Regions from separate parts of the Homo sapiens genome. Here region 2 is linked to region 1. The links come from fine-mapping of genetic effects on gene expression. Tissue or cell type: tibial artery. Region 1 holds a variant in brackets; the other region holds the start of a gene. All regions are shown on one strand. Distances are from middle to middle.

Evidence for each region. PIP is the estimated chance that this variant, and not a neighbour inherited with it, causes the effect.
Region 2: REM1 starts here. The variant in region 1 is fine-mapped to the expression of REM1 in tibial artery (GTEx, PIP 0.99).

What each region holds. Positions count from the first base shown.
Region 1 is chr20:31,728,798-31,734,894 of GRCh38, reverse strand. No RefSeq gene overlaps it. Among named protein-coding and RNA genes, the nearest start is that of TPX2, 7.4 kb to the left of the region's middle. The variant T/C (reference allele first, on the strand shown) is at 3,517.
Region 2 is chr20:31,472,255-31,478,351 of GRCh38, reverse strand. REM1 (RRAD and GEM like GTPase 1) reads right to left here and starts at 3,064. Exons shown (of 5, transcript NM_014012.6): 1 at 2,986-3,064; 2 at 1,567-2,125; 3 at 442-524. The coding sequence starts at 1,906. It overlaps DEFB124 (defensin beta 124), which reads left to right and starts at 3,225. Exons shown (of 3, transcript NM_001037500.2): 1 at 3,225-3,725; 2 at 5,314-5,396. The coding sequence starts at 5,339. RefSeq lists a silencer at 3,113-3,172.

The DNA.
Region 1 (6,097 bases):
TTTTTAATTTTTTTTTTTTTTGAGACAAAATTTCGCTCTTTCACCCAGGCTGGAGTGCAATGGCGTGATCTCGGCTCACTGAACCTCCCCCTTCCGGGAAGTGATTCTCCTGCATCAGCCTCCTGAGTAGCTGGGATTACAGGCACCCACTATGACGCCCAGCTAATTTTTTAGTTTTTAGTAGAGACGGGGTTTCACCATGTTGGCCAGGCTGGTTTGGAACTCCTGACCACAGGTGATCTGCCCGCCTCAGCCTCCCAAAATGCAGAGATTACAGGTGTGAGCCACTGCGCTCAGCCTATTGACAACTATTAAAATGTCAAATAAGTATGCCCTATGATGTAGGACTTCCATTTCTAGGTTTCATTCCAAGAGATAACACTCATCCAGTCACACAAATGCCCAGTTGCTGCAGCATTTATTGAGCACCTGCTATGTGCCAAGTCACCATACTAAGTGTGGGGATACCACAGTAAAAAGACAGACAAAATTCCTGTCCTCGTGGAACTGTTATTCTAGGGGAGAAGACAGATGCCAGATGAGATAAATAAGTAAATGATCTAGTGTATTAGCAGGTGATAAATGCAAAACCATTTGCTCGCGAGGCCCTGAAGTGTGGATGGCAATACAAGGAGAAAGGCAGGAGCTGGATAGATGGTGGGGCAAAGGGAGGGCAGGGGTCTGCCTGGGCTGTGACTGTCCCACTTTCAGCACCCACATCACCCAACAACCAGGCATGTGCCTGCCAACAATGGAGTAGACAGGCTTGGGTCAAGGTGGGGGTAAAGGTAGTTTGCCTTATATTAGGAAGGAAGAAGCATCAGAACTATTGTTGTCTGGGGACTACTAGGCAGAAGGTAACTGACTGAATGAATAAATGAATGAATGAGGCAATGCCAGGAGGCCAGGATGTATGCAAGAGCTTCCCAATTCCTTCCAAATGAACAGGAGGTAAGCCTGGTCCAAGAGTTTCCTCTCCTATCATTTTACCTGCTTATGTTAGGCTGAGCTTCAAGTTCTCGTTCTCTGTGAATGGGAGACTATGTGGTCTGAATCACTGAAGCAGAATTTCAGGGCTGGAAAGAAGGATAGACACATCTGGTCCACTCTGTTCACAATTTCAGTTATCATCGAGGGAAGGGAACAAGAGTGGAAATAAGGAAATCAATTAGTAGTTCATTGCAATGTAGTTGTAAGAAATTGGAAACCACCTAAATTTTCACAAATCGAGGAATATTTCAATCAACTGCCTACAGAATGGAACACTAAGCAGCAGTTTAAAAAAGTTCCATGGATCTGGACTGACAGGAGAGGATCTTTGAGATATATTTTTGAGTTAAAAAAAATGAATTGCATGGCTGGGCGCGGTGGCTCATGCATGTAATCCCAGCACCTTGGGAGGCTGAGGCAGGTGGATCACCTGAGGTCAAGAGTTTGGGACCAGCCTGGCCAACATGGTGAAACCCGGTGTCTACTAAAAATACAAAATTAGCCAGGCGTGGTGGTGGGCGCCTGTAATCCCACCACTCAGGAGGCTGAGGCAGGAGAATCACTTCAACCCGGGAGGCGGAGGTTGCAGTGAGCTGAGATCGCGCCACTGCACTCCAGCCTGGGCAACAAGAGTGAAACTCCGTCTCAAAAAAATGAATTGCTGATTGACATAAATTCATTATGACATCATTATGTTTTTAAAATACTCAAAATAATGTTCCACTTTTCCCATGGGTGTGTATAAGTAACCATTAGTACTTACCACATGCTAACCACTATTAGAAGTATTTTACACATATTAACTCATATATCCTAACAATAACCCTATGAGATAGTTAATGTTACCACACCCATTTTATAGATTGTAGAAATTGAGGCTTAAAAAGATTAGACAATTTATCTGAGATCATACAGCTTTTGTGGTGACAAAATCAAGATTTGAGCCCAGGAAGGCCTACTCCAGAGACCAATCCCCTAACCATTGCCTTGGACTGCCTCTCCTATGTGGATATATATATAGAGAGAAAGTTATGGAAAAATTCATAACAAACTAACAAGAATGGGAAATTCAGAGGGGAGAAGTTAAACTGGATTTATACAGAGAAAGGATAGATAATTTGAGTCTTTAATTAAAAAAAAAAAGAATGTTAGCTGGGTGCGGTGGCTCACGCTTGTAATCCCAGCACTTTAGGAGGCTGAGGTGGGTGGATCACCTGAGGTCAGGAGTTCGAGACCAGCCTGGCCAACATGACGAAACCCCATCTCTACTAAAAATAAAAAACTTAGCCAGGTGGTGGTGGGCGCCTGTAGTTCCAGCTACTCGGGAGGCTGAGGCAGGAGAATTGCTCGAATCCGGGAGGCAGAGGTTGAGGTGAGCTGAGATTGCGCCATTGTACTCCAGCCTGGGCAACAAGAGTGAAACTCCATCTCAAAAAATAATGATAAAAATAAATAAATTCAAATCACCCAAATAATACACAGCAACACTCTTTTTTATTTATGTAATTATTTTATTTTATTTATTTTTGAGATGGAGTCTCACTCTGTCGCCCAGGCTGGTGTGCAGTGGTGCCATCTCGGCTACTGCAACCTCCGCCTCCCGAGTTAAAGCGATTCTCCTGCCTCAGCCTCCCGAGTAGCTGGGATTACAGGCATGCACCACCACGCCCGGCTAATTTTCTATTTTTAGTAGAGACGGGGTTTCTCCATGTTGGTCAGGCTGGTCTCGAACTCCCAACCTCAGGTGATCCGCCTGCCTCGGCCTCCCAAAATGCTGGGATTACAGGCATGAGCCACCACACCCAGACTTTTTTTTTTTTTTTGTAATAGTAAAACTGCAAAGGAGAGAGAAGGAGGAGCCAGTGAGGTAGAAAGTTATTTAAGCTCTCAAACTCTGTTTTGAAAAAGTGAGAGATTAACTGGGTGTGGTGGCACATGCCTATAGTCCTACCTACTCTGGATGCTGAGATGAGAGGGTTGCTTGAGCCCAGGAGGTTGAGGCTGCAGTGTGCTGTGATGATGCCACCTCACTCCAGCTTGGGTGAGAGAATGAGACCCTGTCTCGAAAAATAATAAATAATGAGCGAGAAAGAAAGAACCAGCCTCTACTGCTGCCCCTAACAAATCTGATCCTCCACTCTGTGTCTCTTAGTCCCTCCACCATCTAACTAGTGGTCACTAGGCCAGAAATCTGGACCTGCCTTCCAGCTTCATGGAGGCTTCCTACTCCATTGGCTCCGGGTGATGACTTAACTTCCAGACACCTCCAAACGAGGTGACTTCGATCACCCAAAGACACTCCTCTGGAGAAGGTTGCAGGTATAAATAATTGATGACAGCTGTCAAAAGGATCCCCAGGATCGCTTGGACCCGGGAGGTCAAGGCTGCAGTGAGCTATGATTACACTGCTGCACTCTAGCCTGGGCAACAGAGTCATACCCTGTCTCGGAAAACAAACAAAAAAAAGGTTCCCCAGAAAAGTCAGCACTGTGGCACTGTTTTTTTTTTGTTTTTTTTTTTTATTCT[T/C]CCAGTCTTCCATCCAACCAAGTGTTGGGGCTCAGAAAATGATGCTCCAAAATATGGTGCTTTGGCATGCTGGGTGCTTTGAACAAAGGAGATTGAAAGGCCTCAGAAATAAGCCTCAGAAACAAGGTCTCCCTCTGACCTTCTGCTCCCTGTCCCCATCATTCCCTTCCAAAGAGCAGGAGGGAGCAGTTGCGGAAGTTCTTTCCCTTATATGACTGAGGGAAGTTCTTCCAATTGTATTAAATGCAATTGTCTTAAACTCTCTTCCTAGAAATCTCATCAAACAACCAGGGAAGATTAGTCACCAGAGAGGAGATTAAAAGTAACCACCACATCCAGACAGGCTATTGCCTATTCTTCCAGAGACTGTTCCAAAACAACTTTTTTTTTTTTTTTGAGACGGAGTCTCGCTCTGTCGCCCAGGCTGGAGTGCAGTGGTGCAATCTTGGCTCACTGCAAGCTCCGCCTGCCGGGTTCATGCCATTCTCCTGCCTCAGCCTCCTGAGTAGCTGGGACTACAGTCACCCGCCACCACGCCCAGCTAATTTTTTGTATTTTTAGTAGGGACGGGGTTTCACTGTGTTAGCCAGGATGGTCTCGATCTCCTGACCTCGTGATCCACCTGCCTCAGCCTCTCAAAGTGCTGAGATTACAGGCATAAGTCACCGCGCCCGCCCCTTTTTTTTTTTCTTAAAGGCAGAGTCTCGCTCTGTCCACCAAGCTGGAGTACAGTGGCGCAATCTTGGCTCACTGCAATCTCCGCCTCCCAGGTTCAAGCGATTCTCCTGCCTCAGCCTCCTGAGTAGCTGGGATTATAAGCATGCACCACCACACTGGCTAATTTTTGTATTTTTAGTAGAGACAGGGTTTCACCATGTTGGCCAGGCTGGTCTTGAACTCCTGACCTCAGGTGATCTGCCCGCCTCGGCCTCCCAAAGTGCTGAGATTACAGGCGTGAGCCACCGCGCCCAGCCGCAGGGGGTTATTTTCAGTAAGCACATGTAAGATTGGTGGTAGCAGTTTGAGACCAGCCTACGCAACATAGTGAGTCCCCGTCTCTATAAAAATTAAAAAAAAAAAAATTGCTGGGTGTGGTGGTGCACACCTGCAGTCCCAGCAACTCAGGAGGCTGAAGTGGGAGGATCATTTGAGCCTGGGAGTTTGAGGCTGCAGTGAACTATGATTGTGCCACCATACTCCAGCCTGGGCAACAGAGGGAGACCCTATCTCAATTTAAAAAAAAAAAAAAAGAATGATTCGAAGACTTTTTAATGCAAATACAGATACCTCATATATCTATATCTATCCACACACGCATTTTTATATATTCATATAATGTCTGTGTGTGTTCATATGTTTTTCAAATTTCTCATTTAAAAAGTAAAGTTTTTTTTTTTTTTTTTGAGACAAAGTCTCTTCTGTCACCCAGGCTAGAGTGTAATCTTGGCTCACTGCAACCTCTGCCTCCCAGGTTCAAGTGATTCTCCTGCCTCAGCCTCCTGAGTAGCTGTGATTACAAGCGCCCGCTAGCACACCCAGCTAATTTTTTGTATTTTTAGTAAAGACAGGGTTTCACCATATTGGCCAGGCTGGTTTTGAACCCCTGACCTCAAGTGATCTGCCCACCTCGACCTTCCAAAGTGCTAGGATTACAGGCATGAGCCACCATGCCAGGCCAAAAGTAATGCTTTCTTATTTTAATATTTGGAAAATACACGGAAGGTAAGGGATTAAAAATCACCTATTGATTACAGTGTACACTCTTTATGTGATGGGCACATTAAAAGTCCAGACTTCACCAACTATATAATTCATCTACTATGTAACCCAAAACCACTTGTACCCCTAAAGCTATATGTTATATATATGAAAAAATACTGAAAATAATAAAGAATAAAGAAAAATAACTATAACGTAGCCTTTAGTGGCACTATCTCTACTATTAGCATTTTAGTATATTTCCTCTTGTCTTTTAAACATTGATTTTATTAACAGAGTAGATACAAATACATATATGCAATGTATGAAAGGTATAAAGAATAATGAGGCAAAAAAAGTCTCTGTACATATGTACAATTCAACAAGAAAACCATTTTCATTGTCTTTTCTTTCTACTTTGTTTCTTTTTTTTTTGAGACGGAGTCTTGCACTGTCGCTCAGGCTGGAGTGCAATGGCGCGATCTTGGCTCACTGCAACCTCCACCTCCCAGGTTCAAGCGACTCTCCTGCCTCAGCTTCCGGAGTAGCTGAGATTACAGGCACCCGCCACCATGCCCAGCTAATTTTTTGTATTTTTAATAGAGACGGGGGTTTCACTATGTTGGCCAGGCTGGTCTCGAACTCCTGACTTTATGATCAATCTGCCTTGGCCTCCCAAAGTGCTGGGATTACAGGTGTAAGCCACCACACCCGGCCTTGTTCCTTTTTATTTAAATTGTTTACTACTATTCTGTTTCAGACAGAGATCATTATTTTTGAAGCTTCCAATTTCATCTTGTTCCCTAGGTTAATCCAATACCCTCTCGTGTTAATGTCCAATAGCTATCATGACTTTTTTTTTTTTTTTTGAAAGAGAGTCCCT
Region 2 (6,097 bases), 260 kb after region 1:
AGGAATGGTTAACCCATTTATCAGATGAGAAAACTGAAGCTCGGAGTGGCTAAGTCAATTGCACAAAACTACACAACTAGTAAGAAAAAGAAAGGGGGTTCAGCCTTAGGTATTTTGGGGCCAAATCCAGCGTTCCTTCTGTACAATGTGGGTGGGAGGGGTGGGAAGAGGGTGGAAATAATGATGGGGAGATCTGCAGGGGGAGAAGTACATTCTGAGATGGCTGCTAGGAGGGGATTGTGGAGTGAGAAAAGGGGTCAGGGTCATAAGGGTCTTCTGTTTGGGATTGGAAAGACTGCTTAGGAGCTGTGGGTTTTGGGGGAGGGTGCTGAGGATGGCCGTTGCTCACACCTGATCTGTAGTGTCCCCAGGAGGGGACAGGAAGGAGTCTAGTATTAGGCTCAGCACCCCTCTCCCCAAATTCTGCTTGCAGTGCCATACCAGTTTCTCGGCCTCCCAGGTGTCCACGACCACCAGTGTGGTGTCTTCTCCATCCACCGTGAGGGTCCTCTCATATACATCTTCTGCAACCGAGGGAAGAGCTGGATCTCAGGGAGGACGGGCAAGCCTGAGAGAGTGTGGTGTTCCCTGCCCCCCATTTCTGGTCATATCGCCCCCTCCACTTGTCCTCGGAAACGCTTATCACACTTGTTTGATGCCTGTCTCTCCTGGTAGGAGCCCATGTCTCCCCAGCTGCCATAGTACCTGGCACATAGTAGGTGCCAGAAAGATTTGATTGATTGAATGAAGGTGGGGTGGTGGGGTTAAAGTTGGGCTAGGAATTCTCCCAGGCCTGCTCTGTCTCTGATTTAGTGAGTGCTTCAGGCAGGTCATGTTATCCTCTCTTGACCTCAGTCTCCCTATCTGTAACACATATGTGTTCTCACTCGGAGAGAGAAGTCAAGACTAGAGAGGAGTCTGGCTAGATGTCCCTACCTTTTCTCTGCATTTAATCAACCCCCTTCCCCCACTCACCCTATGTCCTTTTGGCCAGTCCTTCAGGGGCCTACCTTCATCTCTTCTATCTTCCCTGTACCCCATCATCCTGGGGCCCCCGACACTCTCAGCTCACAGCAGTTCTTGGGAATAAAGCAACCCAGGGCCCAGAACTTGGGGTCTCGGAGTCTCCCTTCTGCAAAGGATCTTAGTTTTGCTGTAGATCATGGTGACCATGGATGGGTGTCTATGGGACTGGGAGAATCTAAGAGTCAGAGGAGTCAGGGAGGGGAGTTTCTGACCTTGGTGGAAGTCCACCATTTCTTAACATGGAATTCAGAATTGCCACCCGCATGACATGGAAATGAATCATATACTTCTCATTCATGGGAAGTTGGCAAAATTCTTGTTCTATTCAAGAATTTCCCTCCCCTTGACCATTGTGCAGGCTGTGCCCTGTACAACTTTGGAGGGCGGGGGGGCATCGTGCATGTCATAGTCTAAGTGAATGATGCCCCTTAGAGTTGAACAGTGCATGACTTGTACAACTGTTCTTGGCAGCCCTGTGTCCCTGGTGACAGGGCTTTCGCTCCTTTGGCCACATCCCAGCCCAGCCCATATGGCCCCTACCTCCCAGCTGTTCATGGAGGTCCCTCTCTTGCTTCCCTGCAAAGAGGCTGGCCAAGCTGGTCTTCCCCACTCCAGGATCTCCAAGTAGCACCACACGGTAGAGAGCCTCCCAGGAGCCTTCAGAGTCGCTGGATTCAGAAGACCAATCATCTGGGGCAGGTGAAGGTTTCTGGGTGGGAGGGTTGAGGGAGGCTGATTGGCCCAGCCGGGGATGCTGGGATTGAGTGGAAGGCACTGTGCTCAGGCGGCCAGGCTGGTGGCCCCGTGGGGACAGGGGCAGTGGGGTGCTGGCTCGCCGGTGCAGAGGGGTCTTTGCTTCCTGCTCGGTGTTGAGTGTCATCTTTGGTAGGGGGGGGTTTGCTTCTTCCTTCTTTCCTTCTGAAAGAAGGGGGAATTGGCTGTCAGCCAATTGCTTTGAGCTGCTTCTTTCTATAGTGTCCTGATGAGCTGCTGTATGGCTTCTTCCAGATCCCCCTCTTGTTCAGATGGGAGTAGGAGGTGCCTCAGCTTCTTGGGGCAGAAAGTCCCTAGGTTTTCTGGCCTCAGGCTCTGCATAAACCTGGATCCGGATGGAAGGAGTGAGTGTGCAGGCTGTGAACACACAGACATGCACACCCAGAGGCCATTCCCTTGTCTTAAGGATGATCTACTCCTGATGACAGACAGGCAGGTGGAGGGGCAGTAGTAAGGTGGGATGTCCTCACATGCACACTCCCCATTCCGTGTACACGGACCTGCCCTTGCCACAGAACATGAGGCCCTGGCTCTGAAAGACATCTGAATTGTCCCCCTCCTCCCCTTCCCCACCGCTCTCTTTCACAGCTTCTGGGTTGGGAGTGCAGTTTCAGGTCTCCCCCAAGGGTAGGGGCTACTTAACTTTCGATGCCCAATTTCACGGGGTCTGAGGAGGAAGAGGCAGGAGGGCGGGTTGGCACTCCAGAAGCGCGAGGGGGGTATGGGGGTAACCCGACTGTAACCCGAGTGCCCTAGTGCCATGGGAACCGCGTGTCTGACCCGCCCCCTGTGTGAAAAATTCAGGAGCGGCTGGCGCTACGGCCTCCAACTGCTTTTGGGGACGGGAGCTGCCGCCGGTCAGGCCCCAGGTTAGGTGACAGGACAGGGTCCTGGCAGGGGACGGGGAGGGCAGACCACAGGGCCCGGGAACGCTGTGCCATTCCTGGAGTCTGGGTCCGAGCTTTCTCAGCCGGCATCCCGGGTGTGAATCCCCCATCCTGGGGTTGGAGGGGTCTTTGTCCAGGGCTATCCAGCCCTCCGGGTCCCAGGTCTGAAGACCCTCACCCTAGGGACGCGGTTTCGAAGCCCCCCTATTCCTGCCAACGCTGCCGAATCCCCCTTCAATCGCCTGGCGAACTCTGCTCCAACTTGAGCAAGTTGGCGGCGCGTAGCGCAGGGCTTTACCTCGGCGTGGGAGGGGTCCAGGGTCCCTCGCAGCTCCAGCGGCTGGATGCTCCAGGCTGTACCACCCGCCTCAGTGAGCAGCCCCTCAGGCCAGTTCCCCTCCCCTCGCCGCCTCGGCCGGGGGAGGAGCCGCGACCCCGCCCCATCCAGCCCCGCCCCATTAGGGCAGCCCCGGGGTCCCCGCCCCAAGGCCCTGGCCGCTCAGTGACTTTTCTGAAAGTGCAGAGCTCAGCTGACCCGCTTCTGCCAGCCCTACGCACCGGGTGAGGGTGGCAGACGAGAAAGGAAGGATGGGGGCTCTGGATTCCTGGGTCTGGAGCTCCATCTGCGTCCACATCTGTCCACTCCATCAAGGGGATGCACTAACATATTAGCCCCCAGAAAAACCACTTGGGGAACTTGCTAAATTTTCAGGTCCCGCCTTCCAAGAGAGGCGGATTCCACGGTGCTGGGGGAGGGGTTCGGGAATCTGCGTTTTAAACAAGTGCCCCAAGTGATCCTGATGCAGGCGGTTCACTGACCTCACTTTAAGAAACTCTGCTCTGGATGAAGAATTAATTTTGGGAGGTGGCTTGGAGGAAGAGAGAGCTCAGGAAGTCTGCACTGAAGAATTATGAAAATCTTATTTTGGCATCATTCATTCATTCACCAACTGAGGCTTAGCTGGGCCTGGGCCTGAGGTCTCTGCCACTCTGTCTACTGTTTCTATTACTGATGGCTGAAAAAAAAAATGCTCCCAGGTATGGAGGAGGAGGAAAGAGATTGCTGGTGACGTCGGCCATCCAAGGGGCCAGGATCCAGACTCTTTGACTGGGCTGCCTCCCTTTAGGTCTTGAGAAATTGGGGTGTGTCTGTGTGTGGAGCCCATGGAGACCAGGCTGCACCTGTGGGTGGGGCTCATTGTCATGGCTGAGGGGATTCAGGTGTTCAGCTTGGAATAACTCCCACAGCAGCTGAACAGACTGGCTCAGCCCCCACAGGTCTTGGAGCTGATACAGAACCCCCTCGTGCCTGGCTTCCTTCCGTGGCTTGGCCCTCTAAGCTTACCTTTCTAACTTGCAAGATGGGCCATGAGTGGTGCAGCACCCTTCATTGTCTGGGAGTGAGGTGACTTGGCTTTTCCATCTCTGCAGCACAATTGCTGTGTGACCTTAGGCAAGTCAACTTCCCTCTTTGGGTTTCAGTTTCTTTATTTAAAACTATAATATGAACAGCTTACACTCTTGCTAAAAAACTTTTGGTTGTCTATAATACAAAAGTCTGAACTTGGCATTCAAGCCCCAACCTATTCTCTGCAGAATCATTTCAACCTCTCCTCCCAGGAAAACCCTTGCTTGGCTCATGCCCTACTCTTCTAGGCACATTCTATTCTTTCTGCCCGGGATACCTTTTCCCCTACTCATCTTTCATGATGCAACTTAGATTCCTGTGTACCAGACACTGTTCTAAGCTCTGCACGGATATTATCTCAGGGGTTCTCAAACTTTGGCGGTGTGTTAGAATCACTTGGAGGGCTTGTTAAGCCACATTTTGCCGGGACCCACCCATACTCTCATCTATGACTAGTGATCTAACAAATGACCAGAGAGCTAACTTGTGACCAGTGTTAGTGAATCTGTGGTCTAACTTGTAACCAGTGGTTTAACCTGTGACCCATGGGCTGCTCTGTGACCTGTGGCCTTCTTCTGCTTAGGAAGAGGTGAATTCAGTAGGTTTGGGGTAGGGCTAAAGAACTGGTGTTTCTAACAAGTCCCAGGTGTTGCTGCTGCTTGCTGGGGGAACCATAGTATAGGAGCCACTGTATTACTTCATTTAGTCCCCTAAATGAGATGGGTAGCTATTACTCTCTATGACATGGGTACTATTACTCTTCCCATTTTAGAGTAGGCCTGCATACATGCTGTTCACTTGGCCTTGTAAGGGATGCTTGTCATCATTTCATAGACAACAGCCTGAGGCTCAGAGAGGTTAAGTGACTTGTCTGATGTCTCACAGCAGTTAGGGGGAGATGCGGGGGATTGAACTAGGTCTCTCTTAAGCCAAGATTTTTTCCACTCTCTTAGGTGGGGAAGATGTCTAGTTTCTGACCCTAGACACTGCCTCAGAAAATTCTACCTCCCCTTCCGAGCTCAACAGGCTCCGGAGGGTGTGGCTGACCAGTTCCCACGTAGCTGGCTGAAATCCCAAGCAGCCTGGGGACCACATGGCCTCATACTCCCACTTAGGCCTGCTGCCCACAGCACTGCCTTCATCTGCAGCTCAATAAAGCCTGGGCTGGAAGCAGCGAGGCTCAGCCTGCTCGGGTCTTTCCTCTTGTGCTCTCTCCAGCAGCCTCCCCAGGAGCCCCGTGGCCATGACACAGCTGCTTCTGTTCCTTGTGGCTCTCCTGGTTCTGGGTCATGTGCCATCAGGTAACAACATCGTGTGCATGTGTGTGTGTGTGTGTGTGCACATGTGTGCTTGTAAAAATGAGGACTAGACTCTCAGGTCCTGGAGGACAGAGGGGCCTCTATCAGCATTTAAGTTCTGGCCCCACCACTGACTTGGTGGGCAACTTAGAGCAAGTTGCTAAATCAGCCTGTACCTCAGTTTCCTAATCTATAAAATGGGATTCTCTCAATAAATATTCATTTATGTTATGATGGTTGTGAAATAATAACAGTGAAAGACATGTAGCAGTGAAAGAAAAGAAGGTCCTTGCTTTCATGCAGCTGACACTTTAGTTGGTGGAGATAGAAAATAAGTGGATAAACATATGTTGGGTGGTGATAAGTGCTGAGAAGAGGAAAGGCAAGGGAAGGGGTTAGAGTGGTGTGTGCATGGAGGGGGTGGGGATGGGAAGGCTGATGAGGATGGACAGAGAAGGTCTCTGATAAGATTTGTTTCTTTTGCCTCTCCCCTCTCCCCTCTCCCCTCTCCCCTCTCCCTTCTCCCCTCTCCCCTCTCCCTCTCGGTCTCCCTCTCCCTCTCTTTCCACTGTCTCCCTCTGATGCCGAGCCGAAGCTGGACTGTACTGCTGCCATCTCGGCTCACTGCAACCTCCCCGCCTGATTCTCCTGCCTCAGCCTGCCCAGTGCCTGCGATTGCAGGCGCGCGCCACCACGCCTGACTG